Regions from separate parts of the Homo sapiens genome. Here regions 2, 3, 4 and 5 are each linked to region 1. Evidence: fine-mapped expression QTL. A gene starts in region 1. Each other region holds a variant in brackets. All regions are shown on one strand. Distances are from middle to middle.

Region 1 (6,124 bases):
ATGATGTTAAGACTATACATGAGTCACGAAAAATCCCACCCAGATAAAAGCAAACCTTTTTCCTCAAAACTGTTCTTATTCTTGTTCTATCCTCACAATATCATTAGTAAGAAAACACCACACGCTATAAGCATCCTTCGAAATGTTTACCCAACATTGTGACCCAGTTGTAAACTTTCTGTAGCCCCATGGAAACACTTACTTCTGGGAAGAATGAATGACTCTCAATATAGCACAAATATACTCCAAAGGAAAGGCATGGTGACTCCTAAATGATCTGAGGAACAGAGGACTAGGTAAAGACAATGGAGGCAGAGTTATGGAAAGAAAAATTAAATTGTATTGGCAAGGGAACAGGCATTCTTTGGAAAGTGAGATAACAGGTCTGTCTTGTCTAGCGCTACATTTAACAGTTTTTTAGATCTCACAATACAAGCTAGAATTCCACTTCTGTTTATTTCAGGGTAGATTTACATCAGTTTAGTAATTCACCCCAGACCTCTGAATAATTGTTTCATGTGATCTACATGAATAGTGTATTATTACTCATTACCAAGTAATTACCAAGATAGTCAACAAGATATAGCCCAAAGGGAATTATACACAATAATTTGGGTGGTGGAGGGGGGTGGGGAGGAAGGAAGAGTTGGGAGTCACACAAAGGGATGTGATTCACCTGTAAAGGTTGAGGGTGGGGGGTTACAAAGTGGTCCTGGCAGAGAAATCACAAGGCCCAGGTTCCAGGACGACACTGGTAACTAGGAAGTGTGTGACCTTGTGCATGACGAGATGGATTATTTCAAAGATTGGATCTCATAGATCAAAAGAAGGGACTGTGCTGAACGCTCTTTCAGATTCCTCCCACTGTCCAAATACCAATTGATATCTCCACTCTGGGTATGTGCCTTACTAGGTCCGGCTGGGGAAATTCGGCCTTCATTCATCTGATCTGGCACAGTGACCGAGCCCTGGGGCATGCGCCCGGCCTCATCTTTCACCTGAGGAGGCTCCTCCATGGCCGGGCGCCCCGCGGGTGAGTCGTACGGGGACGTGGCGCTTCGAAGTTTATGGGGAGCCTCGCACACCTCAAGTTGAAGGAACTGCTGAATCAGGGTGCCCCAATTAAGTCAGATCTTAGGCAATCCTATGGTTCCTTTACTCTCCCTCACCCTTCCTCCTACTCTGAAAAGAAACCGGATCGGCCTGTCCGCCCAGAGGTCACCTGGGAAGAGCAGAGTGATGTCACTCGGCTACCCCCAAAACTGCCTCCAAGGTACAAAAGAGCTGGAATATCTGTGCATGGTCCAAAGGGACGGCACACTCCGGAAGGTGACCCTTTAGAAGGTATTATTACCAGACTGCAGCCTCGGCCTCTGGGATGGGTGCGGGAGGAAGGTGGTGAGTTTCCATCATCCCGCTGCCTTGCCGCACGGCGGCCAGGTGCTGCTACACATTCAAACCCGACAGTTTGGCTTAGTGGGTTGCGAAAAAAGAACTCAAGGGGAGGAAGCACCTGCAGCCACCCAGGCCGAAGTTAGGGACCACTTCCCCAGAGTTACGGACGGCAACAACCAAGTCACGTCTGGAGTCACCTCTCTGGCTTCCGGCTCCGCAGGGCTTGCCCTCCCGAGTCACCCAGGCAGAGGCCGGGGACGCCAGTAAGGGGAAGGTCGGAGGGTCGGGAGGACAGTGAGGGGAGGCGGGCTGGAGGAGCCGGGATGGCGAAAGGTGGGGGGTGGGGTGGGAGGGTTAGAGGGGCCCGGGGCGCCGGGGCCGGGGTGTGTGGGTTGTGGGCGAGGTGGCCGGGGCGGCCAGGGGGCGCGCAGGATACCCTACCTGTGGTGGAGAGCACGGTGCTGGCGAAGAAGAGCGCGGAGGTGAAGTCCCAGTTCCAGTTGCCCGAGGCGTTGCTGAGCACCGACACGCCGTAGTTGCTGGCCTCCAGCACCCGGCCCAGGAACTGCTCCAGCTGCTGCTCAGACAGGCACTCGTGCTCCTCCAAGAAGCGTCGCTTCAGCTTGCGCAGCTCCTGGCGCAGCAGGTCCTCATAGGGCAGCTCCACCGAGGAGAAGACCACTGCGCCGAAGACCAGGTAGAGCAAGTAGCCCAGCACCAGGAAGCCGAAGCACCAGGCCGAGCGGTGCCGCTCCACCAGGCGCACGCACGAGCTGCCGGCCAGGGACTGCAGCATCTTCTCCACCGCCGCCGCCAAGGCCAACGCCGCAGACCGGCCGGAGCGCGGCCCGCCGCCTCTTCTGGCCCCGCCGCCCCCGCCCCCGCCCGGGCCTGGCTCCCGCCCGCCGCCCGCTCCCCCGCGCGCCCGCCCGCCCCGCTCCTCCGGGCAGCGCCGTCTTCCTGCGATTGGCTCTCTCGGGCGATGTTTTTCTTCCTTCTTTTCCTGTTTCCTTGCAATATAAAAAGCCCAGATGATGTGGCGCTGACGTGGTTGCCGGCTCAGGTAACCCGAGAGTCAGCGGAGACCGCGCGCAAACTTGGCCAGAGCGCCTGGGCTGGGCTGCCGGGGCCCGGGACGCACCGCCTTCTGCGCACTCCAGAGGTGGGGCGGGCGCTCGGTGGCGCCCAGACCCCGACCCGACAGCCACCAGCTCCTCCCGCTCCCTCCCTTCCTGGGTCCAGTAGCCAAACTCTAGCTGACCGCGCGCGGCGTGTGCGTGTGTGTGTGTGTGTGTTCGCGCGCGTGTAGTGTGGGCCGCTTCTGGTCAATGCGCTGGCCGTCCAAGCCCCCTGTCCAAGCTACTCTTGTTTCCCACTTATTTTCTCCCAATCAAAGCCAGTATTACAAAACAGCAAGCGCTGAAGTACTTTCCTTCTTTGTCTTATTGGTCGAAGGATTGAGCAATCTGGTGCCAGTAATGACGGTGAAAATACCAGAACATCAGAGTTGGAAGGCTCCTTGAATCAGTCTCCTCTCTCCCACCCATCCCCCTCACAAAAAGGACTTGAGGGAAAAGGAGAGTCTCAGAGAAGTCCTATTTCTGAGTTCGAATTTTCTAAAACATGACCTTAGGTTTTTTGGTGAAAAAACATCCCAAATGTGTCAACTGCCAGAAGAAACTGAGCTTTCCCAACTGTCACTTCTTTTTAAAGTGACAAAAATGTGGGCGAGGGTCAGCGAGCCGCCTGCTTGTGGATGAAAATAAAAATTGGTACACCCTTTCTGGAAAGGCAATTTAGCGACACGTCTCAAGAACCTTGAAAGGGTTTATTTGTTCTGATTCAGTGATATGTCCTAAGAAAAAACAATCAGAGAGGCACTTACTTACAAAGACTGGTCATAGACGGTATCTATATATACATACATGTAGTTGTATAATATAGTGCATACACATGTGGGACACACACACACACACACACACACACACGGTATAGATGAAATAATGAAGACTCAGAACAATCTAAATATTCCAAAATAGAGAATGGTTAAATAAGTTATGGCATCTCTACAGCATGGACACCATATAGACATTAAACACATTAAAGTTGTGTCTAAAGACTATTGAAGCAAAACTGTGTAGAATCTCAAATATGTAAAATATTTGTATTTTGTTACAAAATAAAATGACATCTGCATTATTAATCAACTGCATAGGAATAAAACTATCTCCTTGCAGTTGTCTTTGGGTAATAGTAGAGTATATAGATGACTTTCCTTTCTTGTACCTTTTAATATTTTTCAAATTTTCTACAGTGGATATATATTATTTTTGTAATCAGGAAAAACATTTAAAATACACAAAACTGAATTGTACAATTAATCATTCCAACACCTAGCTGAACATTTGCCTACTTTACTGAAGTTCTCTAAACAAGTCATATTTTGTATTTTCATAGAAACTTGTGCAAATGTCTAACATATATATCAGTGATTTTTCACTTTTAGTCAATAGCCTTACCTCCTACGTTACTCAAAAGATTGAAGCCAGCCCTCCACTTTACTTCTCTGTACTTCAAAATTTACTCATCGGTAATCCATTTCTTCCCTTTGCTCTTACCCCTAAGGAAAAAATGTACCTCCTTATTTTCAAGGTGAAAGGAAGCACTTACCACTCTCAGTCCTTCCGCCTCTGGGAACCCTTCCCCATCAGCAAGTGCCCTACTCTTTTAGAACTTGAATTCCTCCTTCTCCCTCAAGTCTCCATCCTACAATGTCCTTCCCTGTCCTGCTCTGTAACCCTTGCTTGCCCTATCCTATCCTTGATCTTTGCCTATTTGCCCTGTTCAGAGACCTCTTCATTCATGAGGCTACCCCCGGCCGTAGCAGACCCTCAGAATTCTCCTCCTGCCTGTCATGATCATTTTTCTCCCTATGTCTCTGCTCACCTGATTCCTTCTGCTTGGACAGTTCCTCCTCCATCTCCATCTGTAACACAGTTTATATCCTTCAGGACCTGGCTCACTCATGAAACCTGTGATTCCCCAACAGGATGTGAGTTCCTCTTCCCAAGACATACAACCCTTTGAATGCCAGATTGTGTGGGGTACTTGTGATGAACTGCAGGTGCAGGTGTGGTTATATCATCACACTCAAATATACATACATGTATTGTGGGAAAAAGAGTTTCTGGAGTGCCAGTTGAGTTGTTCTCCCCTGTGTGAGACACCCATGGGGAGCCATGGGTGACCTCTGAGGAGAAAAGTCTCCTTATTGCCTTCATGTCTTTATGCCCTGAGAGCATAACTGCTCGGGGGCATTCCACAGGCTGCTCAGGGAGATAACACGCCCTGGAAGCAGTGGAGTATAATCAAACATCTTGGCTCCTCCTGAAACCCGCTCCCACCCCTTTCAGTCCCAATAAGTTAAAGATCTTAAGTAGTTTAGACACACGCAATCTTAAGTAGTTTAGACACACGCCTTTGCTCAAGGAAATTCACAGAGACCACCACTGCTGTACATCTTATTGAATGACTCACAAGTTCTCCTTCACTGATTAATCCTTTTCCTCATCCCTTCCTCCCCCTCCCATCTGCCCTAAGAACAAAGAGCTTGTAAAACAATAAATTAGTTGGAGCCCAAGAGCTCTGGGCCATGAGCAAGCCTCCTACACAACGGTCCCCTGGACCCACCTTTTAAATGCTTATTCTGCCTCTTTCTAACTCCTGTGTCTCCGCTGGACTCGGGGTACCCGCCGGTTGGTGTGGGGCTGGTTCCCCCAACATGTATATGGCAGCTTTGAAATATGGTTGCAAATTCTTTGACAGTCCCTCACCAAAGGGTAGGGTTTCTGTCCCCTATCCTTGAAACTTGTGACTACTTCAACTGACAGAGTACATAAGAGATGATACTAGGTAATTTCCAAGGTTAGATGATAAAAGACCAGCAGCCTCCAACTTTGTTCACTGGAACAATCCCCTCTTGGAGCCCTGAGCCATCACATAAGATGTCTGATTAACTTGAGGCTGTCATGCTGGAGAGGCCACATGTAGGTGTTTCAAGGGACAGCCCAGTGAGCCCAGCTTCCTTATCATTCTCGCCAAGACACCAGATAGATGAGTGTAGCCATCTTCAACTCTCAAACCAGGGCATCCACCTGCTGAATACCACTGGGTGTCTTACCTCTGTCTATCTACCCAGGAACAGAACTCCCAGCTGAGTTCTGCCTGAATCCTGAGATATCATCAGATGGCTGTCTTAAGCCATCGAGTTTTTGGCTAGCTTGTTATACAATAATAGATAACTGGAACAACATGCATCTTGACTACATTGAATTTTAAAAATTATTATTAGAAGTTTTCTTCAGACAAATTTGCCATTTTCTCCATAGTTCACTTCTCTGGCTGAGACTCTGCCCCAGCTCTACATCACAACTAGGCCAAGGATACCAAATATTTTTAAATCATATTATCCTCAGACTACAAGTAGAAACTGGAAATATCATGGAAGTGGTCTGATGGGGGCATAGATCTCATCCTGCAGGACGAGGTACGTTGAGTGGAGCCTGGATATGGGGCTGGGAAATGCAAAGACTTCTGAGGTTCTGGCTGTCTGAGTTGATGGGAATCCTGATAACACAGGTTGGCTGCCTTCCTTCCTCGTCCTGGGCCACTGCTCTAGACAGATGCTCCTGTCTTCAAAGAAGTTAGCAATCTCGGAAATGTTAGAATT
Region 2 (6,124 bases), 62 kb before region 1:
GCTCACTGTAGACTTGACCTTCTGGGTTCAAGTGGTCCTCCCACCTCAGCCTCCTGAGTGTGCACCACCACAGCCAGCTATTTTTAATATTGTTCGTAAAGATGGGGTCTTGCCATTCTCAGTGGATTTCACTGGGTCTGAGTGGCATCTTGCAACTGGACTTTTTACATATTATGTATGAAGGGAAATAAATACACAGGATGCTCTCATTTTACAACTTGGGTGAAAAGCTATTTCATAATCACTCGGCCAGATATTCTGCGTAACACTCATAAAATACTTCTCCTCTTTTTACCTTAGATATAGCCATGGAACCTTGAAATCTACAGACGTAAGTAACACAGATGATCAGCTGGAAAGAAAACAAATGTGAGTGCAGTGATTAGTCTCTTTAAGACCCTCCATAGTGACCGGAGAAGTGTTCCAGGTGGCACAGCTAGGTTTCCACATTGACCCACTGTGCTTGTCGTCCTTCTCCAGCCAGTGCCCCTTTTGGAGGGAGTCACCAACAGAAATGTGTGCTGTCAATGTCTGGCTATGCCCATGCCCTGGGCTCTGCTTCACTCTCCCAAGACAGGGGTCCCTGGGGCAGCCTGATCTCCTTTTCAGTTCCCCAAAATCTGAGGGAAAAATGATAGACTGTGACAAAAAGGCAATCTATTATTTTACTTTTTAATAGAGTTCTGCCAGCTCTAGCATGTGCCATAAATTACAGTGACCTTTAAAATCTCGCTTGGTCACTGCTGAATGGGTGAGAATAGGCTTGGTTCCAGTTTTTAAGGTCACACTGTCCTAATTTGCAATGCATCACACCATGTACTAAGTTGGTAACAACCGCTTAGAGGAAAGCTTTCGTTATGCAAGGGAGAACATCAAAAAGGGCACTTATCCCAAATGAATGCAGCAATTTAAACCAAAGATGTTTACGCAGGGCAAGAACAAAGTAAGGCAGGAGTTTGGGGTCAACTAGGCTGATGTCTTTGAACACCCATGAGCTCACTGGAAGGTCTGAATATCTGGTGGCCGATGGGCTCGGGGTGTCTCGTCATTGCTTAGAAGCGAAAATTAAATGCTGAGTTATGTGGGTGAAAATATGTATGTTTGCAATTACACATGGAATGTAAACCAAAGATACAATTCTAAGCCCCCTAACCACTAAATGGATCCCTCCTCTCAGCCAAGGGCATTCCAAAGTTAACCTGAAACACTAGTTCAGGCTGTGATGGAAATGAGTGGGTGGACATGCCTCCATGGAAGGAATTCAGACACAACTGACCAGCATGAACATTCAAACAGAGACCTTAAGTCTAACAAAACAGACTCTTTGTAGCAATAAGATGCTGATATGACAGCAGGCCCTGAAAGCAATAGAAATACTTTACCCCAAAATATATTTCTTTGATATATTTTGAAATGGCCCTGCAAAGCTGTCTCTTGTGGGGAAAATCTACATTTTATAGAGAATCCTCTTCTCTTTCTGGGTATTTTTTCTGATCTAGGAGAGAATTAACTAAGTCTGGCACCTTTTTAAGTCTAATAGGAAACCATTTACAAGCTATTCTCTCGGAAGCCTGCTACCTGGAGACTTTATCTGCAAAATAAGAACCTTGGTCTCCTTCACCCCTTATTTTAAACCAAACACACCCTCCTATTGACTCTGGGTCTTTAGATAAACTCTTTCAACTCATTACCAATCAGAAAAATCTTTGAATTCACCTATGACCTGGGAGCCCGCCCATCTTGAGTTGTCCTCCCTTTCCAGACCAAACGAATGTATATCTTACATGTATTGGTTGATGTCTTATGTCTCCCTAAAACATATAAAAGCAAGCTGCAGCCCAACCACCTTGGACACATGTCATCAGGACCTCCTGAGGCTGTGTCACAGGCACGTCCTTAACCTTGACAAAATAAACTTCTGCATTGATTGAACCTGTGTCAGATACTTTTTGGCTTACAGTCATTTATATAAATAATAAAACCAAGAGGATGAAAAAGACTCTCAAAACTAAGCTAAATTCTTCACCTAAAATAAATAATATAGACATTTATTTATGCAAGATTTTAGCAGTAGTGTCATCTTCATATGTAGACAGCAAGTTACTTCATGGTGGAAGATAAGATGTTTAGCCTGAGGGAATTTTCTAAGCAAAGAGAATTACCACTTAAAAAGGAAACATCTTAAAGCAAATTTTAACCATTTTGCATGGAAATACTATTCACTTACTTTATGTCTGTAAACATCATTTAATGTTGTCATGAAAATTGTGTTAATAACATTTCATTATGAAAATAATGAAAATCTTATCACAGTAGTGAAATCATTATGAAAATAATGAAAATCCATTTTTTTTCCGCAAGTTAAGTATTCATACTTTGTAATCATACTGACCCGAGTATGTTCTGTCATTGGCTTAAAATGTGGGTTTTCCACATTGGTAAAAATTTGCTAGGCCACCTGTGTGTGGTTTGTGGCTCTGAGTACACTGTGGCGCCCCCTTTGAGAGCAGCATGTTAGCTGCCATGAG[G/T]CTCCAGACTTAGTCAAAAATTGCTTTCAGTAAGACAGGTGGTCATGTCTCTAGAGGGTGTGACCATTTCTCCTTCTCAGTATAAAATAGAGTGGTCAGACTGTTCTACGCAGATGCTGAGTGCCACAGGATGCTAAGGGAATGGTGCAAGTGCTGTGGATGCTTTTACAGAAACTGAGAGACTGCTTACTATTTTAAGGCCGCCTAAGTGATTGCACAGTAATTATTGCCAAGTTGCATATGGAGACTTTTAAATTCTTTAATTGTGTCACCACAAATTGTAACGTCATTTATGTTGACACAAAATTTGGGTAGCAATTGTTAAAATAATTGAGAGGCCATTAGGCTGAGATGGCCTCAGAGCCCTTTGTTTCCTAGGTGAACAAATCCAGCCAAGCCCAATTCAACATAAACAGTTAAACAAACAAACAAAAAACCTTTACCAGTCAGAAACCACCAACAAGCCCAGGGATTTTCCAGTAGATCATATTCAATTAAGACAAATACGTAGCTGTAGCCAATCAAGCAATTGCTTTGCTTTGCTTGCATGTTCCGCCTATAAAACCCCACACCTCTTGCTGCTACAGTGAAATTCTCTGAACCTCTTCAGGCTTTGAATGCTGTCCAGTTCATGAATCCTTTAATTTCAAATAAACTCTGTTGAATTAATTTGTCTTAAATTTGCCTTTTAATACAACTCTCTCCTTTATTTTCTGTGGGTTGGAAAAACAGAGTAATAATTTTGTTAGAACTGTGTGCAAAGTAAGTATGTGTATGCCATGAGTGAAGCAAAGAGAGGGCTTACTTCTTTTTAAATGTGCTTTCCTACCAGGGCATGAAAAATACTTTAAAAAGCATTTTTATTTACTTCTGGGTCCTTTACTGCACTCCAAAAAGCTGAGTTTGCCTGACAGTACATATTAGATAAGAGAGATGTTAGGAAAATTGACTTCAGCAATTTTACATCTTGCCTCACACAAAAGGCTTTGATGCACCAAATTTCCACAATGTAAGACCCTTGCAAAATAAAAAAAAAAGTCACAATAGGAAAATCTCAAACATGCTACAGAGACAGATTTAAAAAGTTACTTGGCATAGTCAAATAAAGTAAATGGTATACTGTCTCATTTCAATTTCAACTATAAGTTGCTAAGAAACTTTTGTTTCTAAATTTGCCATATATACATTGCTGAAACTACATCCTAAAGGGACTGCCTTCCTAAATTGAGGATATCAGTATTTATCACAGCTCTTCCCAGCATGGAGGCTTTAACAACAACAAATACCAAAATAAATGTATTATGCCAGACAATCAGGAGGCTCTGCTCTCACTGAATTCTGAATAAGAGACAGATAATACTGTTCTAATTCTCCAACATGTGCTTCTGCCAATTTAAAACTTTTCTTCTTTGAAACAAATAGCTGTTTTTAGTAAGAGGTCAGTGTACTTTAAAGAGTTAAGAAGGTTTTGCATTGCCTATTTCCGTTATCTTGAGGTCTCCAGATTTGTAAATATCTCCTCATTCATTTTCCAAAAGGCCCATAAAGCTGGTTTGGAGAAAGTATGAGTGTGATTTTTTTCTCAGGTAAAAAAAAAAGTGACCCCATGTCAGTAATCTAAACATTACTCGATTTTTTTTGAAGTCAGACCAAATTTCTGTCTTCAGAAAATGTTTCTTTTTTCTCCCACTTGTCTTCTTCAACTTTTGAACAAATACTTTCAAAATATCTTGGTGGCATGACTACTATAGAAAGAAACCAGTGTCATAAATGGAGTGATCTGGGCTAAACTTTATCTGTCCTGGGAATCTTTTACATGATTCATTTAGAGACTACTCCCACCCCTTGGTCTCTCTTCCCTTGGATTTCTGAGAGCTTAGGAACTCCCACTCTGAGATACTCTGTGTTCTCTCCTCACGTGGAGTGTATCTGCTACTTTGAAATCAACATCCCTACCAGACACGTGTCACATTTAAGTTCACGCACAGGACCATGTCCTGGAATGATAAGGCTTTCTGCTGCTGTTCTACCCTGAGGGCATTCCGCAGGCATCTTAGGAACTCAATCTTGAAGGCTCAAGCTAAGCAAGTGAGTTCAGCTTGTACTCATCACCCAGAATTCTCTAGTAGTCACTTTTACCTCCAACTTCCCACTCTCTCGCCTCCAACTAAAGGGTTCCCAAGGTCAGTTCTGGCTTAGCTACACTGTTCATCTTCCACCTCCTTGTCATGCCTGCAGCAAGCCGAATTTCTGTTCTCTGAGAGGCTGACCCAGAGCTCCTCCTGGGTGACCAAGCTCGCTTCTCCCTGGGGACCAAAGGGCAGCATCATCGGCCAAAGACAAAAAGAAACCCTGGGGAAGACATCCTCCCTTACTTTCCTGCCTGCTAGGGTGGGGGCCGAGGCAAAACTTGCTCCTACTTTTCTACTTTGCCCTTCACATTAACAACAATCTGAAGGGCATTAAGGTTTAATGTGTTCTCTGCGGATTCAAACGAGTTCCTAAAATTAAGTACTACACTCTATTACTTATTAATCACATCTGATTCAGAAGTTTTTCTTCACGTACTTCCTCATTTTCTGGACTTTGAACTTCCCTCTCATGTTAGAGCCAAGCAGCTGTAGCAAACTAGCCATTATTTTTTCCTGCATTGCATAAAATAGAATAACACTCTCCAAGTGTAATCCAGCTTCTGTGATTTATATTGATGAGCATCTCAGGACTCTGCTCCACACCAAGGCTTGTGACCATCGGAAATGTTGCAGATCCAGTTATGGCAGGATGCATGCCTCTATTCTCCAAGGATTCTCTATTCTACCCTTAACCAATGATCTGGCCTCATGACAGCAGTCTTCTATTGCAGGGACATGGTCAGCAGGGAGGAAATATGCTTACGGGGCAGCACACTTGGATTCCTCTAAAAATCATATACTATCCCTCTAAAATCACCTATATTTTTCCATCTCCCTGTCCTCTAATCAGTAAGATATTTAAGCATGTGAACCCCTATTGAGATATTGGACAATCACTCTGTAATTCTTTCTGTGTGCATGGTAGTTAATAAATGTGTATGCCTTTTCTCATTAATCTGCCTTTTTGTGAGTTGATTTTTCAGCAAATCTTCCGAAGGGTAAGGGGATGCTTTCCCTTTGCCCTGCAGTTGGTAATAATTTACTCATGGCAGCACATGGTACAGAAGGTAGAAGGTTACTGAGCGAGTGACCCACTGTCAGGAGACTGGCCCGCGATCAAAGTGCTTGGCTGGCTCATCAGAGGGCGCTGATTTTGCACTGATTTTTACCAGCCCCTCAACCACCAACTCCTGGGCAGCCACCCATGGGAGGTAAGGCTCCATTGCGGGGGTCAGTGGACATTCATTATCACACAGGGGCTTTCTCATTTTCTTTTCTAAAATCCTTAATATAATAGTATCCTGTGTACGTCATCTAAATGTGACCTTTATGTTTTCTATGAAGGACTATATATATATATATACGTATATATATATATATATATACACACATATATATATATATACATATGTATATATATACATACATATATATATGTATATACACACACATATGTATATATAT
Region 3 (6,124 bases), 29 kb after region 1:
AAAGAAAAATGTTTATTACATCAGTGGATTTTATTTTATTATACTCCGTCAGTTACATACAACTAGGCCACATTTCAGTTTGCTTTCTATTTGGACAAGTGGGTTTTTTTCACTATAGTTTTTGTTATCCTGAAGTTTTTCATTATTCTTCCACCTTGCATTAAGTACCTTTATTATAAAAAGTTTTTCTATCCTTTCAATCACACTACGTGTTGTTCTGGGGAGTGACATTTTCCCTGGCAATCCCTCTGGTGCTCCGGTCTTCCTACTCCAAACAGCGCTGGTGAATCTTTAGCTCTGCAGCACAGTGTTCACTCTGAGACTTTGCTGCTTTCCTGGCAGAAACCCCTGTTCCTGGTACCCCATACCTTCCACTTTCCGGGGTGATTTTCTAGTGCTCTAGAGTACATCTTCAGGTAGCTCCCAAAGAAAAGAGAAAGAATGAGAGGTTAACTCAAATGTGTGAAAATATCTTTAGTTCAGTCTTCGAGTTGCTAGTGTGGCCGAAACATACGATGCTGCATAAAATCATTTTCTATTACAGCTTTGAAGGCATTGTTCCATTTCTCCAACACACAGTGAAATTGATCAGAAATATGATGTCAGGGCTCACTCCTCCTCTGTTTTGAGTGACTCGTTTTCCTCTTGGAGAAATTTTAAGATTTTTCTCTTTATTCTCAGTGTCTATAGCTTTGCAAATATCCATCTTGCTTGGCACTTAATAAGTCCTTTCTATTTGAAGACAGGTCTTTTTTCAGCTCTAATGAAAGTCACCTGTTTATTTGATAATTTCTGCCTCCATTCTATCTACTGTTTTTGGAAATCCATTATAATTATGATTATGATTTTAGATTCAGGGGTACATGTGCAGGTTTATTACATGGATATATTTTTTAACAATGTGGTTTGGGCTTCTAGCATACTCATCACTGAAACTGTGAACATGATACCAAATAGGTAAATTTTCAACCCTCACTCCCCCTGCTCTGTCCCTTTTGAAGTCTTCAGGGTCTATAATTTTCATCATTATGTCTATGTATACCCCGTTGTCTAGTTCCCATTTATAAGTGAGAACATGTGGTATTTGATTTCCTGTTTCTGAGTTATTTTACTTAGGATAATGGCCTCTGGCTCCACCCTTAATGTTGCAAAGGACATGATTTTATTCTTTTTTATGGCTGCATAGTATTCCATGCTGTAAACACGCCACATTTTCTTTATCCAGTTGACTTATCCTATCAACTGTTGATGGACCCATAGGTTAATTCCATGACTTTGCTTTTGTGAATAGTGCTGTGATAAACATACAAGTTCAGGTTTCTTTTTTATATAATGATTTAATTTCCTCTGGGTAGATGACCAAAGTGGGGATTTCTGGGTCAAATGATAGTCCTATTTTTAGTTGAGAAATCTCCATATTGTTTCCCATAGAGGTTATGCTAATTTGTGTTCCCACCAACAATGTGTGTTTCCTTTTCTCTGCATTCACATCAACATCTGTTGTTTTTTGACTTTTTAGTAATTGCCTTTCTGATTGGTGTGATATGGCATCTCATTGTGATTTTAATTTGCATCTCTCTGATGATTAGTGATGTTGAGCATTGTTTTTATGTTTATGGGCCACTTGTATGCCTTTTTTTGAGAAATGTCTGTTCCTATCATTTGTCCAGTTTTTAATGGGATTGTTTGTTTTTATCTTGTTGCTTTGTCCAAGTTTCTTACAGATTCTGGTTATTACTTCTTTGTCAGAGACATAGATTGCAAATATTTTCTCCCATTCTGTAGGCTGTGTGTTTACTCAGTTGATTATTTATTTTGCTGTGTAAAAGACACATAGATCAATGAAATAGAATAGAGAATCCAAAAATAAAACCACACGCCTACAACCAACTTATCTTTGACAAAGTCAACAAAAATAAACAATGGGGAAAGAACACCCTATTCAATAAATGGTGCTGGGAAAATTAGCTAGCCGTATGCAGAAGAATGAAACTCCAGCCCTCTTACCATATATAAAAATTAAGATGAATTAGAAACATAAATGCTTGACCTGAAACTATAGAAATCCTAGAAGAAAACCTCGGAAAAACTCTTCTGGACATTGGCCTAGTCAAATAAGTTTTGACTAAGACCCCAAAAGCAAATGCAACAAAAACAAAAATAGGAAATCCCATTATTATTCAAATCCAGAATTTCCTAGGCCTATTTTTTACTCAAATTTTTTCATCACTTTCCTTGTGGCTCTGTGTTTTGTGAGATGTCTTTTACTTTGCTTTCTATTTTACTCATTTTTAAACTTAAAAGCATAAACTTAATGTCTAAAAACATAAACTTTATGTTCTCTGTTCTATTTTCATAGACTTGCTATTGTTTAATGGCTGAAATATCCTTTTGATTCTTGCTAAGTATCAGAGCAAAAGCTTTTATTCAGTTACATTATGTGCTCTGCACTATCTGTTTCCTCCAGGGCCCATTTTAATCTTTATTTTAATCTTTCTTCTTCATGCTGTGGTCTCTTTATATACACCTATCTACTTAAGTTGAAGAAAGCAAGCCTGAGATAATGGGTATGAATTATGTATGCAGGATTCCCCAGCCTAAGCTTCTCCCTTGATGGGAAATACTGATTGGGAACCTAATGTGAACATGGGGACTGTTTGCTTGGCTTCCTCTGATGGCAAGAAGACAGGTAGCAAGCTATTGAGTTATAGTCCCTGAAGATTCCAAAAACTAAGAGGAATTTACTTTCAGAACCAACATTATCTACATTGGAAGCCTCAACTTTCACTTATTTTGTTCAGTCTCTCAATTAGACTCGCTAATGGGGGCTATTTTTTATTAATTAATTAATTTATTTATTTTGAGACAGCTTCACTCTGTTGCCCAGGCTGAAGTGCAGTGGCATGATCTTGGCTCACTGCAA[C/A]CTTCACCTTCAGAGTTCAAGTGATTCTTGTGCCTCAGCCTCCAGAGTAGCTGGGGACTATTGAGGATGGAAGGCAAACCACTTGTGCTCAGTGAAGCTAATCTGCTATTGACACAGGAAAATTTCCTTGACCCCTTTGCAGGCCTTGTGACAGGGGTGCCTCGCTTACTCAGCCCGCCACAGGTGAGTGGGTGCAGGAGCCACAATGAGTGCTTTTGGGTGCTGGCAGGAGCAAAACTTTGTGCAGCTCTGTGGCAGCGCCTAGAGGGGTACCTGCAATCCCTGAAGCCCCAGAAGGTGTGTGTTACAGTGCTCTTTTAGCTTTGCCATCCACAGATGGGTTAAGTGTTAAACAGCTCGGTGAGCCCTCTGCCTTTTCACAAGGGCAGAGGGTCAGTGTGACAGCCTTCAGTGTCTGCACCTGTGGCACCTGAGCTCTTGTTTAGCATCCAGGAGAATCCAGGTCACACAAACAAATTGAAGGGTGATGAATACAAAGTATTTTATTGCCAATGAACGTGGCTCTCAGCAGGAAGAGGAGCTGGAAGGGAGATGGAGTGGGAAGGTGATCTTCCCCCAGAGTCCGGCTGTCCCGGCCAGACTCCTCTCTGAAGCAACGTCATCAAGCCATCTCTCTGAAGTCAAGCTGCTTCTCTCTGATGTCAAACCACAGTCTCCAATGTCCAGCTGCTTCTCCTCTTCTCCCCTTCTCTGCCCTTTGGCAGTCGAGTCAGGAGTTTTATGGGTATAGGACGGGGAGCAGGGCAGGCCATGGTGGTTTTGGAAAAGGCAACATTTGAGTGGGAAAAACAGAAATACATGTTCTCACTTTGGGCCATGGTTCCAGGCTTGGGGGTGGGGCTTTGCCAGGGAGCCTGCCCTTTCCTGCCTAGAATTTCTCTGCCTCCTGTTCCTATCACTATTGCAAAGTCTCCCATTGATACAGTGCCTTAGACATCAAGAATTTCATTTCTCTTACATAACAGTCCAGTTCTGCTCCATGAAGTCATTCAGGGACTTGAGGTCCTCTTATCTTGTTTCTACACCATCTCCTAGAGCAGCACTTCTCAAATGTTAATGTGCATAGGAATCACCTGGAGGTCTTATTAAACTGCAGATTCTAATTCAGTTGGTCTATGGAGGTGCCAGGTATTCTGCATCTTTAATGAGCAGGAGCTGCTGCTGATGCAGATGCTGCCAACTGGAGAAGAATTTAAAAACCAGGCACTAGCATTGTTCTCATCCATACCATTGAATTTCCATTAAATTCTGTATTCCAACCAGGTGCAGTGGCTCACACCTGTAATCCCAGCAACTCAGGAGACTGAGGCAGGAGAATCACTTAAGCCTAGGAGATCTAGACCAGCCTGGGCAACATAGTGAGACCTCATCTCTAAAAAATTTTTTTTTTAATTAGGCAGGGGTGGTGGTGTGTGCCTGTAGTCCTAGTCACTTGGTGGGAGGAGGAGGGAGGATCACTTGAGCCCAGGAGTTCATAGTTACAGCGAGCTATGATTGCACTTCTGCATTCCAGCCTGGGCAGCAGAACAAGACCCCATGTCTATAAAATAATAGTAATAATGAACAAAATTCTGTATTCCAGCACAAGAGATGGTGAAGGAGTGAGAAGGCCCAAGCCTGAAAGCAACATCTTCATTTTCACTCCCCTGCCACTGGCGAACTTATAGTAACAGGCACACTAACCCAGCTATCAGTCTACCACTGTGGAGAAAAGAAAGACTGAATGTTGACAAACAACTGGCAGTCTCCACTATGTAGTGAGACTGAACTGGAAGTTTTAAATTTTTTTGATTTTTTAAAAATAAGTTGTCTTCATTAAATATTAAGTAAGAAAGCATTTATGTGTGTAAGATATAAAGAAAAATAGTAGAATGAAAACTGATATATTTATCACCTGAGTTTAACAAAAAGGATTACTCCCACTTTCTTTGAAGTGCCTTCTGAAGCCATCTTCACTTCTCTTCACTTTGATTTCTGTTCCTCCCACATGCAAAATACATTCACACTCTCCCAAGATTCCCAAGGGTCTCATCCCATTATAGCATTATCTCAAAGTCCACAAATTCATTCAAATCATCTAACCCAGCTGAGAATGAGTCCCCTGGGTATAATCCGTCCACTGACCTGTGAACTAAAGAGACAAGTCGTCTGGCTCCAACACACTGAAAATAATATGATGGGACTTGTGCAGGATAATTATAGACAATTATAGCACAAATAGTGAAAAAATGGGAGGTAAAAAGCAACCACTAGCTTATAAAATTCTGAAATAGAGCAAAGCAAATGTCGATTTTTTTTTTCAAGGCCTGTGATGTGGTTGGGATGTGTGTCCACTCCAAATCTCATGTCGAAATGCAATCCCCCATGTTGGAGGTGGGACCTGGTGGGAGGTGTTGTATCCTGGGGGTGGTTCCCTTCAGCACCCCCTTGGTGATGAGTGAGTTCTCACTCTATTCGTTCACATGAAAGCTGGTTGTTTAAAAAAGCCTGGCATGGCTCTTGCTCCCTCTTTTGCCGTATGATACCCCCCTGCTCCCCCTTTGCTCTCCTCCATGATTGTAAGCATCCTGAGGCCCTCACTAAAAGCAGATGCCAGCACCACATTTCCTGTAAAGCTTGCGGAACTGTGAGCCAAAAAAGCCTCTTTTCTTTATAAATTACCCAGTCTCAGGTATTCTTTTATAGCCACACTAATGGACTAATATCGCCTGAGAACAATCATTTGTAGTGTTTGGCCCCACGCCCCAGTTTCTTGGCTCTGCCTTCTTGGTGATTGACTCCACCCTCTAGGCTCTTAACCCTGCCCTCTAAGCACTTGGCTCTACCCCTTAGGCTCTGTGCACACCGTCTCACTCCTTCTCCATCCCTTGTGCTGTAATACAAATTTTATTTTTATTTTTATAGAGATGGGGTCTCATTCTGTCACCCAGGCTGGAATGCAGTGGCGCAATCACGGCTCCACCCTCTGAATTATCCTTAATTATTCATAAAATGTAGCAGGTGTTTGCAGTTGAGTTATTTATCAGCCTGCTTCCTGCTAGCAGAATTTGGGGGGATCCCACATTCCCTTTCATTTTATATTTTCTTTTTTCCTTTTTGTCTAAGATGGTAGTGTTTCTGCTGAAGCAATTTTCTCAAGAACATTGTGGATCCTGAATTTATTTCACAGGGATTCGCTCC
Region 4 (6,124 bases), 150 kb after region 1:
TGCTGGGATTACAGACGTGAGCCATCGTGCAGGCCCACGCATTACTTTAGAAATAAATAGGTAAAGGAAATCATGTTTGCAGAATCTGAGCTGGCACGGACTGCCTGGTGCAAACCCCTCATTTTATAAATGAAGATCCCAAGGCCCAGCTCTCTGGAAGCTCCAGTAAGACCTGAATAACTATCAGATTTGAGGTCCCTCCTACTTTAGATCCATTCCCCCAGCCTCCACCAATTGGGAGGGGAGCCAGAGGGGAGGGTGTCCATGGATTTGCCTTGGGAGGAAGAGCTATGAGGAAGTCTTCATGAATTTGTCCCTGAATGGCAGCCAAAGCAGGAAGCCTCCTAAGTTTGGAATGGGGGTCAGTGGAGCTCAGGATCTATATCCCGCAGAGCATATGGAGGCCCAAATCACTGTCTCCTCCTCTGGCTCAGAGTTTCCCTATTTCAGTCTGCACCTGCATCTTACATCCCACAACGAAGTGGAGCCTCTGTAGCAGTGGCAGACTACAGGTCTGTATTTACATGGGTCCGTATTTCATCTGCATCGTGACACCAGCCTCCACCACTTTCTGTGCCACCCAGTTCTGGGAGGGAAGAGATTTCATGGTTTTGATGGACTCTCTTAGAGCTATTTACATGCATGAAACAATTAGGAAAACAAAAATAAGGGAGCGTGATGATTAAGTTTTGATGTTAATTTGACTGGAATAAGGAATACCTAGAAATCTGGTAAAGCGTTTTTTTTCTGAGTGTGTCTGTGAAGGTGTTTCCAAAGGAGATCGGCATGTGAGTCTGAGAGGACTAAGTGGGGAAGATCCACCCTCAATGTGGGCAGGCACCATCTAGTCTACTGGGGACCTGCAGAAAACAAAAACAGAAAGGGCAAATAGGTTAATCTCTCTACTAGAGTTGGGATATATTGTCCCTCTCCTGTCCTTGGACAACTTCAGGCTCTCTGATCTTTGGACTCCACGAGTTACACCAATGACCCCTGGGTTCTCAGGCCTTTGGCCTTGGAATGAGAGTTACACCATCATCCTCTGGCTCTGATGGCATCACTCCTGGCTCTGATGCCTTTGGACTTGTACTGAGCTGTACTACCAGAATTCCCAGGTCTCCAGCTTGCAGACAACCTGTCCTGGGACTTCTCAGCCTCAATAATCATTTGAGCCAATTCCCCTAATAAATCCTCTCCCATCTACCTATCTATATCTACATCCATATCTAATCTATGTCTATATCCATCTCCTATTTGTTCTGTCTCTCTAGAGAATCCTGACTAATACAGAGAGTAACAAAGCATTTTTCTCATGTTTTATCTTTCATCTCAGAATCTAATTAATCACTTCCTTAATTACTTGAATGAGCCACTGGAGGTTTGGGGTCATGATTCCTGCTCTATTTATATCACCTTGTTTTTGATGAGATGACCCTACCTCTGAATACTGAGTCTAAACATACCAATAAAAAGATGAGAGACGGCCGGGCACGGTGGCTCACACCTGTAATCCCAACACTTTGGGAGGCCAGGGCGGGTGGATCACTTGAGGTCAGGAGTTCAAAATTGGCTTGGCCAACATCTAATTTAATAGAGATGACATCTAATTTAGTAGAGACGAGTGAAACCTCGTCTCTACTAAAAATACAAAAATTAGCCAGGCATGGTGGCAGGCGCCTATAATCCCAGCTACTTGGGAGGCTAAGGCAGGAGAACCACTTGAACCCAGGATGCAGAGGTTGCAGTGAGCCGAGATTTTTGCACCACTGCACTCGAGCCTGGGTGACAGAGCTTCATCTCAAAAAAAAAAAAAAAAAAAAAAAAAAAAAAAGATGAGAGACCTGTTCCAGGCCCTGTAGTTTTCACATTCTCTCTGAATTCATTATTCTTAAAACACTGTCTATTATCCACCCCTAGTCAATCAAAAATAAATAAAAATCAAAAAGAAAACAAGGAACAGGCTTCTCTTGTAATTGGAAGAGAGCTGTGAGCAAGACGAATGATCTGTGGGGACCTCCACTACGAATTACAGCAGAAGGCTTGCAATTACTTAGAGAAAGAAACTGCATGTTTATAATGTTTGAGTAGAAAGAAGCATCTCAGTACTCTTCACACTTAGTATTCAGCACAGTGATATTGCAGTGCTGGGCCAGTGGGGCAAAGGCCAGCCTTTCTGGAATTGTAACACTCTAAAGTGTCTCTGTACACTGTGAGACACGACCAGGTTCATCAGTCTGGGATCCCCAGGACCTCCAAGCATAACAAACGTGGCAGCAAGTCTCAGGGGCAGAGCCCCAGGCTGCACTTGCCAAGAAGCAGCTTCTGGGCTGCAAAGTCTGTGATCTGAGCAGAGAGAAGGTACAGAAGGAGAAGCTCTGGGTAGAGAGGTGTGATGCTGAACAAGGCCCCCTGCCTGCCCCATCTTTTAGCCTTCCATGCCCCTCTCCACTTCTCAGGTTTCCCTGAGGCTTCTCCCTCCTACTAATCTCCACAACAAAAACCATATTCCAACTCTAGCGACTGAGTAACAATAATGAGATCTATATTATTATGATCATGACTCTTCTTCTTGCTTGTTAACTGCTTAAGCAAACATGCTTTACTAGAAGGAAATCTAACACTCTTCTCTTGAGTCTTTCTCCCCTCTTCCCTCAAATTGCCCAAGCACCCTGGAGGTTTGGTCCAAGCAAAGTTGACCAAAGTGGGAGGAGAAGTGGTGTCTTTGGGGCCATTTGTGGCCTCTCATCAGCACCACATAATGTTGCTGACGAATACTGGCCCCTAGCCACAAGACCCACACTTGTCTGCTCTGAGCACAGCCTTGCTGCTCCACATTCCTGACATTCCTGCAGGGGGCTATGAAATAGCATAACAGGGCACCAAGTGATGCTCTCTTAGTTCACGTGTCTACGTGTAGTCACAGAAACATAACACTGAGCCCAGGGGCAGGTTCCAAAAGATCATTAACGCCTCCCAAGTGCTATTCTGTACACAAGCCAACCCTTTCCATGACCGCTGAAGCCCTTGTCTTCAGCCTGGGCCATCAGTATGTGTTTTAACATATAGTGTATTAGTTAAAAATTCAAAGTAGAGTAAGGCCAACAGATCACAAGATGACTATTGTTGAAAAGAGAAGTTGTTACTCAAGGTTCCCAGGAGGAGAGGCCACCTGGGGAAGTACCAGGGCTGGTCAGAGGCAGAGGGGGCAGGGGACTGTGGGTAAAAGACTTTACTGTGGTTTCTGCAGGAAGGAACAGGTAAGGCAGGGCACATGGGCTTATGATTGGCTGGTTTGAATAATTTCAGAGGGCTATGGGCTGTAGCAGCTGACCCTAGTTGTCTGGGGTGACTAGGGTAGGTGGAGAGTGTCCCAGAGTATGAGAACCC[A/G]TGAGAAAAAAATATGGCTAGGGGTATGAGCTCTGGTTTGGTTGATTTGCATTTGAAAAGCATGCTCATGGGAAAATGACTGATGCTCTCTAGAGATCAGCAAACCCTGGGACGGCAGTCTCCCCAAGGTCAGCAAGGCCCCAGATGTCAAAGCACCAGCACACAGACCATAAAATGCATGGTTACCATACCATGTTGATGTTTTCTTTACTTAAGATTGTTTTATACCTGGGGCCTTATTTTCTCTTCCTGTCACTGGACACAGTTCAGGCCTTCCCTGTCCACTATCTCCCTGACATTGAGACTCAAAACTCCGGGCTTGGCCAGGCTCAGTGGCTCACACCTGTAATCCCAGCACTTTGGGAGGCCAAGGCTGGTGGATCACAAGGTCAAGAGATCAAGACCATCCTGGCCAACATGGTGAAACCCCGTCTCTACTAAAAATACAAAAATTAGCTGGGTGTGGTGGCGCACGCCTGTAGTCCTAGCTACTCGGAGGGCTGAGACAGGAGAATCACTTGAACTTGGGAGGTGGAGGTTGCGGTGAGCCGAGATTGTGCCACTGCACTCCAGCCTGGTGACAGAGCAAGACTCTGTCTCAAAAAAATAAGTAAATAAACAGGGCTTGAGTCTATTCCATTTTACAAAGGTCTTGGATTCCTTGATCTCTTAAAGAATCATCTCTCATACTAAAAGGTAAACTAGATTTTGCTAATGTACTTGAGAAATTAAAGCTCCTATATATACCTTTACTGCAGTCCAAATAAAAAAATATATAATTTTTTATTTTTTGAGCAACTATCAAGCACTGCCCCAGCACATTCATTTCTCTTTATAGTATTGGGCCAGACACAGATCTAAACCATTCCTTTCACACAGCTATGCCAGACCAGCATTTAAAAAATAAACGCTGCTACATACCAAGGGAAAATATTTCGTTAATTTTACTTCTACTTTAAAAAGCATCATTTTGTGGTACATTGTCTAATGTTATCTATCTTTACAAAAACCATGAGATACGTAATATCATTATCCAAACTTTACAGAAAACAAAACAAAACAAAACTGAGCTTAGAGAGGTAAAGTTACTGACAAAAGGCCGCCTAGCAGTTGGTTAGTATAACAATCAGTGCAAAGACCCAAGTTTTTATCCAACCCAGTCTTCTTTTCACTAATCCACTGCTCAGAAAACACAAATAGGGCAAAAACAGTTGTTTGCAGGGAACATATTTCTGATCCACTCTCTTTTACCTCAATGGATTAAAAAGGCATAATAATTAGAACAACTCATTGAAGCATTGTCCACAATGGAGAAGATTTGGAATCAATCTAAGTGTCCATCAATGGATAAAATGTATAAAGAAAATATGGTATATACATACAGTGTAATATTATTCAGCCCTTTAGAAGAAGAAATCCTGTCATTTATGACAACATGGATGAACTTGAAGGACAGAATGTTAAGTGAAATAAGCCAGGCACAGAAAGACAGATACTGCATAATCTCACTTATATAGAGAATCTAAAAAAGTAGAACTCATAGAAGCAGAGAAGAGAATGGTGATTGCCAGGGGCTAGCATGGGGTGCAGGGGAGAGGTGTGATTAGAGAGATATTGGTCAAAGGGTTCAGAGTTTTAGTTATGCAGGTTAAATACATTTTGGACATCTAATGTACAGCATGGTGACTGTAGTTAGTTAACAATACTGTATTGTATACTCAAAATTTGCTAAAAGAGTAGATCTTAAGTGTCCTCACCCCTACACACACACATAAAAAAATAGCAACTATGTGAGGGTGAATATGTTAATTAGCTTGCTTGTGGTGATCATTTCACAATGTATGCATGTATCCAAACCTCATGTTGTACACCATAGATATAAGCAATTTTATTTATCTATTATGCCTCAATAAATCTGGAAACTTAATTAATTAGCTAATTAATTGATTTTAAAATTAGTTGGAAGAATTTTGAAGCCAGAGAGATCTGGGTTCTGATCCCAGCTCTGCCACTTGCTCATTACATGACTTTGAGTTGCTTTCTCTGAGCCTCATTTTCCTTATCTATAAAACGAAGATGATAATAATAATGTCGTCCTATTAGCACTGCTGGGAAGATACATCTCAAAAGGCTCTGGCACAAAGTGGACATGCCACAATAATGCAATATTATTATTATATACAGAGGGTGGATATAACTTCACAGAAGTTCATTTCATTCATTCAACAAAAGTTTATTGAACATCAACTATGTGTGAGGAACAAGGAAAGAATTTCTAAATTAAAGATAGACAGTTAGGAAGGTGGAGACTGACAAACAAATAAATGCAATAAAGTGTCCTCAGTTGCAGGCCAGAGTGGTGGCTACACGAGAGAGCCCATTTGTCCCTGAGAGTGTCAGGAAACGTTCCACAGAAGAGGTATGTGGCTTCCAACAGGAGGGCAGGAGGGCAGGAATTAGCTTATAAAATGCCTCCCTTAATTTGATATCTCATTGTTTAAAAGATCAAGTTGAGAGCTAAAGTGAATTTTCAAATGGCAAAACTAGATTGAAAGCAGGCAAATTCACTGGGTTGTCCCAAAACCACCTAAGGGCCACATGAATTATCACTGCTTCAACTCGTTGTAGGAAACATGCATTTTCAACCAATTTATTTTTTTATCTTGCTCCAAAGACAACATTAAAACTCATAAAAACTAATAAGACAGGCCAAACACGGTGGCTCATGCCTGTAATC
Region 5 (6,124 bases), 45 kb before region 1:
CTTGGGATCACTTTTTACTGCCTCATTCATTTAATACTTTTCTAAACACTTATTGTTGTTTCTACTCATTCATGAATCGTTTCTTGCTAACAAGCAAAGACAGAGAGGCAATGGCATTCCTAGTTGGGACATGGCATCAATTCTTTACCTTATAGTGGACATCTGAGAGAGGGACTAAATTAATACACCACACTTAAAAGCTAGGGGAGCCAGCAAACAACTCAAGTTCCACAGATGAGAACCTTGCACTTTTTGCAATGAAGTTTCCACTAAAAATGGCAGCGCAGTGAAAGAACGATTAGAAATAATAACTTAGGCAAGGGGAACTCATCATGCATCCATCAGTCTGAGGAGGTAGGTTCTGGAAAGGAGGGAAACGGGCTCAAAACACTCAATAAAAACAGCCACACCTAGCTGCTTGCCATATGTGTATAAGCTGTAGTGTATGCAGAATAATTGTGAACCTTCATAACAATTTCCAAATCCTAGAGTTGTTATTTCTACTCTATAAATAAAAAGACTGAGTATTTGAGAGTTTAGACAATTTGCTCAAAGTCATACAAATAACAAGTTGAGCCCATAATCTTTGCACTCTACCAATCCAGATATATTATATGATACAAAGGACACGGATGCATCAAAAGTCAACTCAAGTCCTAACATTATTTCTTAGGTGCTCTCAGTGAGAGGGTGGTGTTACTCGCTACCTGCAAAAGAAGAACAATGATGTCTTTCCTGTGGTTCCGTGAAGCTGATTCTAAGATAGTGAGACTGAAATGAGAGGACAGGAGAGCGCAAAAACAACGTTTAGTAATGAACAAAGGACCGTGCAACTCACACACAGAACTGGTTGGTGGAAGGTGGAGCCTAGGGTAACTCTACAGATATCAGAAGGTGGGTCAGCAAAACATCTATCAAGGGTCCGAGAACGTAGGCATAACCTACATGCCTTTCATATTCTTGAAATAGAGTTTGGAGCCACATAGATGAACTTCTGTGGTAAATAGTAAGGTCATCAATGAAGACTGTCCCTAAATTGTGACAAACAAACATGAAACATAACAAATTAGTGGTGATCTTCAAAAGTAGAGTTTCTGTGGCAATAATTAATATCAGTGATATAAGCATAAACTAAATTCCAATAAAATACTTATCTTCCTATTTAACTATTTAATGTAAACGATAACTCTCAAGGAATCCCTGTTTATAAATAAATATCTAATTGCAGAGATACCAGCTAAGTAAGATAGGATGTCCAACAGCCCAAAGAATGAGTTATATTCTAAAGACATTAACGTAAATATCAGGTAAAAGTAGAAATCAAAATTGTACATTATGATTATAAATTACTCAATATATAAGTATATTTTCATTGTAAAATATTCAAACAACACTGATGCAGCAAATGTCCCCTTGACTACTCATGTCCTCTTCAATTCTAGTTCTCTCCAGAGGTTACTGTTAGGAGTTTTCTTTTAACAGTATATCCTGGAGATGGCTCCATTCTGAAACATGAAAATGGCACTCATCTGGCTGCAGTGTGCAGTACTGTGTCTTCCAGGTGAGAACCAGCCCCTTGCCCTGATGTAGCTTCCTTTTCCTAAGAAGGTTCTCTTATCATCCTTGGCCTTTCTTCTGGACTTCTCATGTTTGTTTGTGTTTATTGTGTTTGTTTACTTAAATAGGAGCTTGCCGGCAGTGTAGTCAATGTACCACATAACGACGTTTCAGTCAATAATGGGCCACATATATGACAGTGGTCCCATCAGACTATACCAGACCTGAAAAACTCCCATCCCCTAGCAATGTCGTAGCCATGGTAACATCATAAGGCGATGCATTACCCAAGTGTCTGTGGTGATGCTGGTGTAAACAAACCTCCTGCGCTGCTATTTGCATAAAAGTATAGCACATACGATTATAGTGTATGTATATATATTGACAATGATAATAAATGACTGTTACTGGTTTATATAGTTACAATTTTTTACTAATTTTTATCATTATTTTAGATTGTATTCCTTCTACAGGACTTGCCTGAAGCTGGTTTACATTTGACATTTTTTTTAATAAAAAATATTTAAAATAAAAAAAATGTCAAATGTAAACCAGCTTCAGGAAAGTCCTTCAGGAGGAATTCAGAAGAAAGCATTGTTATCATAGGAAATGACAGCTCCATGCGTGTTACTGCCCCTGAAGACCTTCCAGTGGGACAGATGTGCGGGTGGAAGATCCTGACCCTGTGTAGGCCTAGGCTAGTGTGTGTGTTCGTGTCTTAGTTTTTAACAAAAAAAATCTAAAAAGTAAAAAAAAACTGAAAAATTTAAAAATAAAGCTTACCAAATAAGAATATAAAGGAAATACTTTTTCAGCAGTATAACATGTTCGTGTTTTAAGTTAAACGTTATCAC[A/G]AAAGAATCAAAATTAAAAACATTAAAAAGTTTATAAAGTAAACAAGTGACAAAAGCTAAGATTAATATAATAAATTAAAGAAAGAAAATAAATTGAAGAAAGAAAACAATTTTAAATAACTGAACTTAGCCTAAGTGTCCAGTGTCTAGAAAGTCTACAGTAGTGAACAGTAATCTCCGAGGCCATCACATTCACTCACCACTTACTCACTCACCCAGAGCAACTTCAATTCCTGCAAGCCCCATTCATGCTAAGTGTCTCATACAGGTGTCCCATTTTAAAAAATCTTTTATACTGTATTTTTACTGTATCATTTCTAGGTTTGGATATATTTAGATCTCCAAATACCATGTGTTACACTTGCCTACAGTCTTCAGTACGGTAACATGATATACAAGTTTGTAACCTAGAGCAATATGCTATAGCATTCAGCTTTGTACACTCTACGTTGTTCACACAATGACAAAAACACCTAAGGATGCATTTCTCAGAACGTATCCCTGTCGTTAGGTGACGCTTGACTGTAGTCTCATGTAGTCTCATTTTCTCTCTTGGCATCTAGGAGTTAGCATACAGTCTCTTATATAAGGAACTGTTTTTGTTAGATGATTCTTGCTTAATATGTAGGTTTTTCCTTTTAATCTACCTGCTTATTAATTATGTGTCCAAAATTATGCAATCAAAAAAATCGAATTTTCTAATTTTAAAGTAAGCAATTTGGCCAAATTAAAATTTCTATTATACATGCTTTCTTTTCTAAGCATTAAACATTTTCAGGGTTCATTCTCTATGATTTAAAAACACATATAATTATTTATTTTGCCCCTCAAACTAGTAAATGAATGATATCCAACTCTAATGGATCCCTGTTGTCCCATTTCTGTATGGTTTCTTTTCCCTAACACTGTTTACAATTTAACTTTGAAATGTGTTGAACCTTTCTTAGCTTGAGAATTTAAATTATGATTATTTGTCCTTATTTTTTCATATTTTTAGAACTGTTTTTCCATCCATTTTAAAAATACGAATCCCTGCCATGTCTTTTCACACCACCCTCTGCATACTCTCACAAATGAAGATCATCTCATCAGGCCTTGCTTCCTAAAACTGAAATTTCAAAAGAAACACGTATGTTACATACAATTATTCAAATTCTTTATACTCCTTTTCTCCATTCTCTCTAAGCTGGTGAGTACCTGGTTGACAGTCCAGCTTTTGATCAGTCACCTTCTGCTGTAGGAGGCTAAGTTTGTCAAAGTGATAAAAAAAAAAATTAACACTTTTAAGTTATAACTTAGTAAAATTTGCAGTAAGATATTAAATGCTATAGTAGGACAGCATAGGTAACAGACCAGGCTGTCTTTCTCTCTCTCTCTCTTTCTTTCTTTATTTCTCTTTCTTTCTTTTCTTTCTCTTTCTTTCTTTTCTTTCGTCTTTCCTTTTTCTTTTTTCTTTCTTTTCTTTTCTTTCTTTTTCTCTCTTTCTTTCTTTCTTATTTCTTTGGCTAATCATCATAATTACACAGTTCCTTATGAAAACAAATTCTGTAATAATCTCTTTATCATCTCAGATCCCTGCAGACAATATGGCTTGGCTTGTTCAACGGTACCATCTACTGCACACTGTGATTTGATGTCTTGCTAGGTTACTGCGGGCAGATCATGGTAGCACAGGAACATGACCCACTACTGGATATGGGTAATAACCACATATCCAGCTTTTACCACATATCCAATTTTAATACAGCTTTCCCCCAATTCCAATCAGTCACATTTCGAAAACATAAGAATCCTACCTAAGGCTTTTCCATCCCAAAATTTACTGACACTGCCTTGGCTGCGGGGGTTGTGGATGAAGGGGGACAAAAAGCGATGAGAAAGCAGCTCTCGTGAAAAGGTGGATTTGTCCCCCTCTCACCAAGCTAAATTAAACTCATCCTCACTCATCCTCACTGCCCATCCTCCCAGACACAAACCAAATGGGCTTCTTACTCAGTACTGGCCATCTCTCGGGCAAGATTTCCCTTTAATATTTTCTTACTAAATTACATGAACAGATTAATTAGAAAAGACTTAAAAAACAACAAGCTATCTAATTCTCTGACAGAGTATATTTACAATGTGTTATGACTAGGACCAAAAAAAGTAAATAAAAGAGACTTAAAACGAAGCTTTGGGCTGGGCATGGTGACTCACACCTGTAATCCCAGCACTTTGGGAGACTGAGGTGAGAGGATTGCTTGAGGCCAGGAGCTCAAGATCACCCTAGTCAACATAGTGAGCTCTGTCTATACAAAAACTAAATAAATTAGCTGGGCATGGTGGCATGTGCCAGTAGTCCCAGCTATTCGGGAGGCTGAGGTGGGAGGATCAATTGAGGCTGGGAGGTTGAGGCTGCAGTGAGCCATGATCATGCACCACTGCACTCCAGCCTAGACGACGAGAGACTCTGTCCCAAATTAAATAAATAAATAATAAAGAAATAAATAATTGAAGCTTTGTCACCCTTGTGTGAAAGCTGATCACATGAAATGAGTCATTCTTGTCATACCCAACAAAGAATCAATAAGCCAAGGGGAAAAAGCACTCAGGGTGAAGAACATTGCTCCAAAAAACATAATTTTCTGCAGGCCTGGCAGCTGACACTGCCTGCAGTAACCTGAAACCAGTTTTGTCTAACGACTACTGAGACGACCTGCTGCAACTCTCAGACTGGGTTTACGCACCACCCTCACTTATCAGTTGAAGCCTGCCAGCTCCTCAAAACCTTACTGGTGCCAATGAAACTTCTCAAAGAGCAATATGCAACATTTCTCCTTTTTATAAAACCTCTAACCTTCTCTTTGTTCTTCAGAGAGAGCATTTTCAGTTCACACCGGAGACTCTCTCTTCCAGGTTTGTAAACCAGTATTGCCAGTGAAACTCTCTTTTCTGTTATCTAGCCATCCTGATGGTCCTTTGGATGACACTTGTTTAATCCTGTAACCCATTTGAATGCAGAGGTGTCAACATTACAATTACTGATGGTCTCACAAAACTGTCGTTTCCTTCAGCATCCTTTCCTAGGGACTTGAAATCCACAAAAGTAGAATGCTTTACGATTAACTGAAAATGATGAGAAGCAACCACCAAGCATAAGTTAAAGAGCTGTCCAGTATGCCCTTGGCATTGGAGCCGTTTTTTTTTTTTCCCACTTTACCTCAGTTGCTCCTCATCCAAGGGTATCTTAGTCTGTTCAAGCTGCTACAAAAGAATACCACAGGCTTATAAACAACAGAAATGTATTTCTCACAGTTTTAGTGGCTGGGAAGTCTCTGATCAAGGCACCAGCAGATTCAGTGTCTGGTGAGGGCTGCTTCCTCATAGACTTCTCACTCTAATCTCACAAGGCAGAAGGAGGAAGGAGTCCCTCTTATGTCTCTTTTATAAAGGCACGAGTCTCATTCACGAGGCCTCCACCCTCATAACCTAATCACCTCCCAAAGGCTCTACCTCCTGATACCATCACCTTGAGAGGGTGGGGGTTAGGATTTCAACATATAAATTTGGGAGAGACACAAACACTCAGACCATAACATTCTACCCCTGGCATCCCAAAATTTCATGTCCTTCTCACACGCAAAATGCATTCAGTCCATTCCAATGGTTCCAAAAATCTTAACTCATTCCAGTATCTACTTGAAGGTCTGTAGTCCAAAGTCTCATTTAAACAG

Alleles and levels. Alleles are on the strand shown, and positions count from the first base shown. SD is a standard deviation of normalised expression in the study named. Not every link is listed here.
With allele G in place of T in region 2, the expression in atrial appendage of the gene that starts at base 2,257 in region 1 is lower (small effect, 0.21 SD a copy in GTEx).
For the expression in spleen of the gene that starts at base 2,257 in region 1, A is the low allele of the variant in region 4 and G is the other (moderate effect, 0.44 SD a copy in GTEx).
For the expression in sigmoid colon of the gene that starts at base 2,257 in region 1, allele G in region 5 goes with a lower level than allele A (small effect, 0.34 SD a copy in GTEx).

Evidence for each region. PIP is the estimated chance that this variant, and not a neighbour inherited with it, causes the effect. A credible set is the group of variants that fine-mapping cannot tell apart.
Region 2: its variant is the best candidate, but not a certain one, in a credible set for the expression of KCNK1 in atrial appendage (GTEx, PIP 0.51).
Region 3: its variant is the best candidate, but not a certain one, in a credible set for the expression of KCNK1 in thyroid (GTEx, PIP 0.57).
Region 4: its variant is the best candidate, but not a certain one, in a credible set for the expression of KCNK1 in spleen (GTEx, PIP 0.63).
Region 5: its variant is the best candidate, but not a certain one, in a credible set for the expression of KCNK1 in sigmoid colon (GTEx, PIP 0.63).

The regions. Positions count from the first base shown.
Region 1 is chr1:233,610,239-233,616,362 of GRCh38, reverse strand. KCNK1 (potassium two pore domain channel subfamily K member 1) reads right to left here and starts at 2,257. Exons shown (of 3, transcript NM_002245.4): 1 at 1,837-2,257. The coding sequence starts at 2,191. RefSeq lists enhancers at 1,231-1,290, 2,479-3,131 and silencers at 1,761-1,820, 2,161-2,230, 2,591-2,690.
Region 2 is chr1:233,672,555-233,678,678 of GRCh38, reverse strand. No RefSeq gene overlaps it. Among named protein-coding and RNA genes, the nearest start is that of MIR4427, 51 kb to the right of the region's middle. RefSeq lists an enhancer at 594-1,216. The variant G/T (reference allele first, on the strand shown) is at 2,529.
Region 3 is chr1:233,581,548-233,587,671 of GRCh38, reverse strand. No RefSeq gene overlaps it. Among named protein-coding and RNA genes, the nearest start is that of KCNK1, 29 kb to the left of the region's middle. The variant C/A (reference allele first, on the strand shown) is at 2,924.
Region 4 is chr1:233,456,923-233,463,046 of GRCh38, reverse strand. No RefSeq gene overlaps it. Among named protein-coding and RNA genes, the nearest start is that of MAP3K21, 130 kb to the right of the region's middle. The variant A/G (reference allele first, on the strand shown) is at 3,388.
Region 5 is chr1:233,655,381-233,661,504 of GRCh38, reverse strand. The region is part of intron 1 of KCNK1 (potassium two pore domain channel subfamily K member 1); the gene reads right to left. Among named protein-coding and RNA genes, the nearest start is that of MIR4427, 34 kb to the right of the region's middle. The variant A/G (reference allele first, on the strand shown) is at 2,412.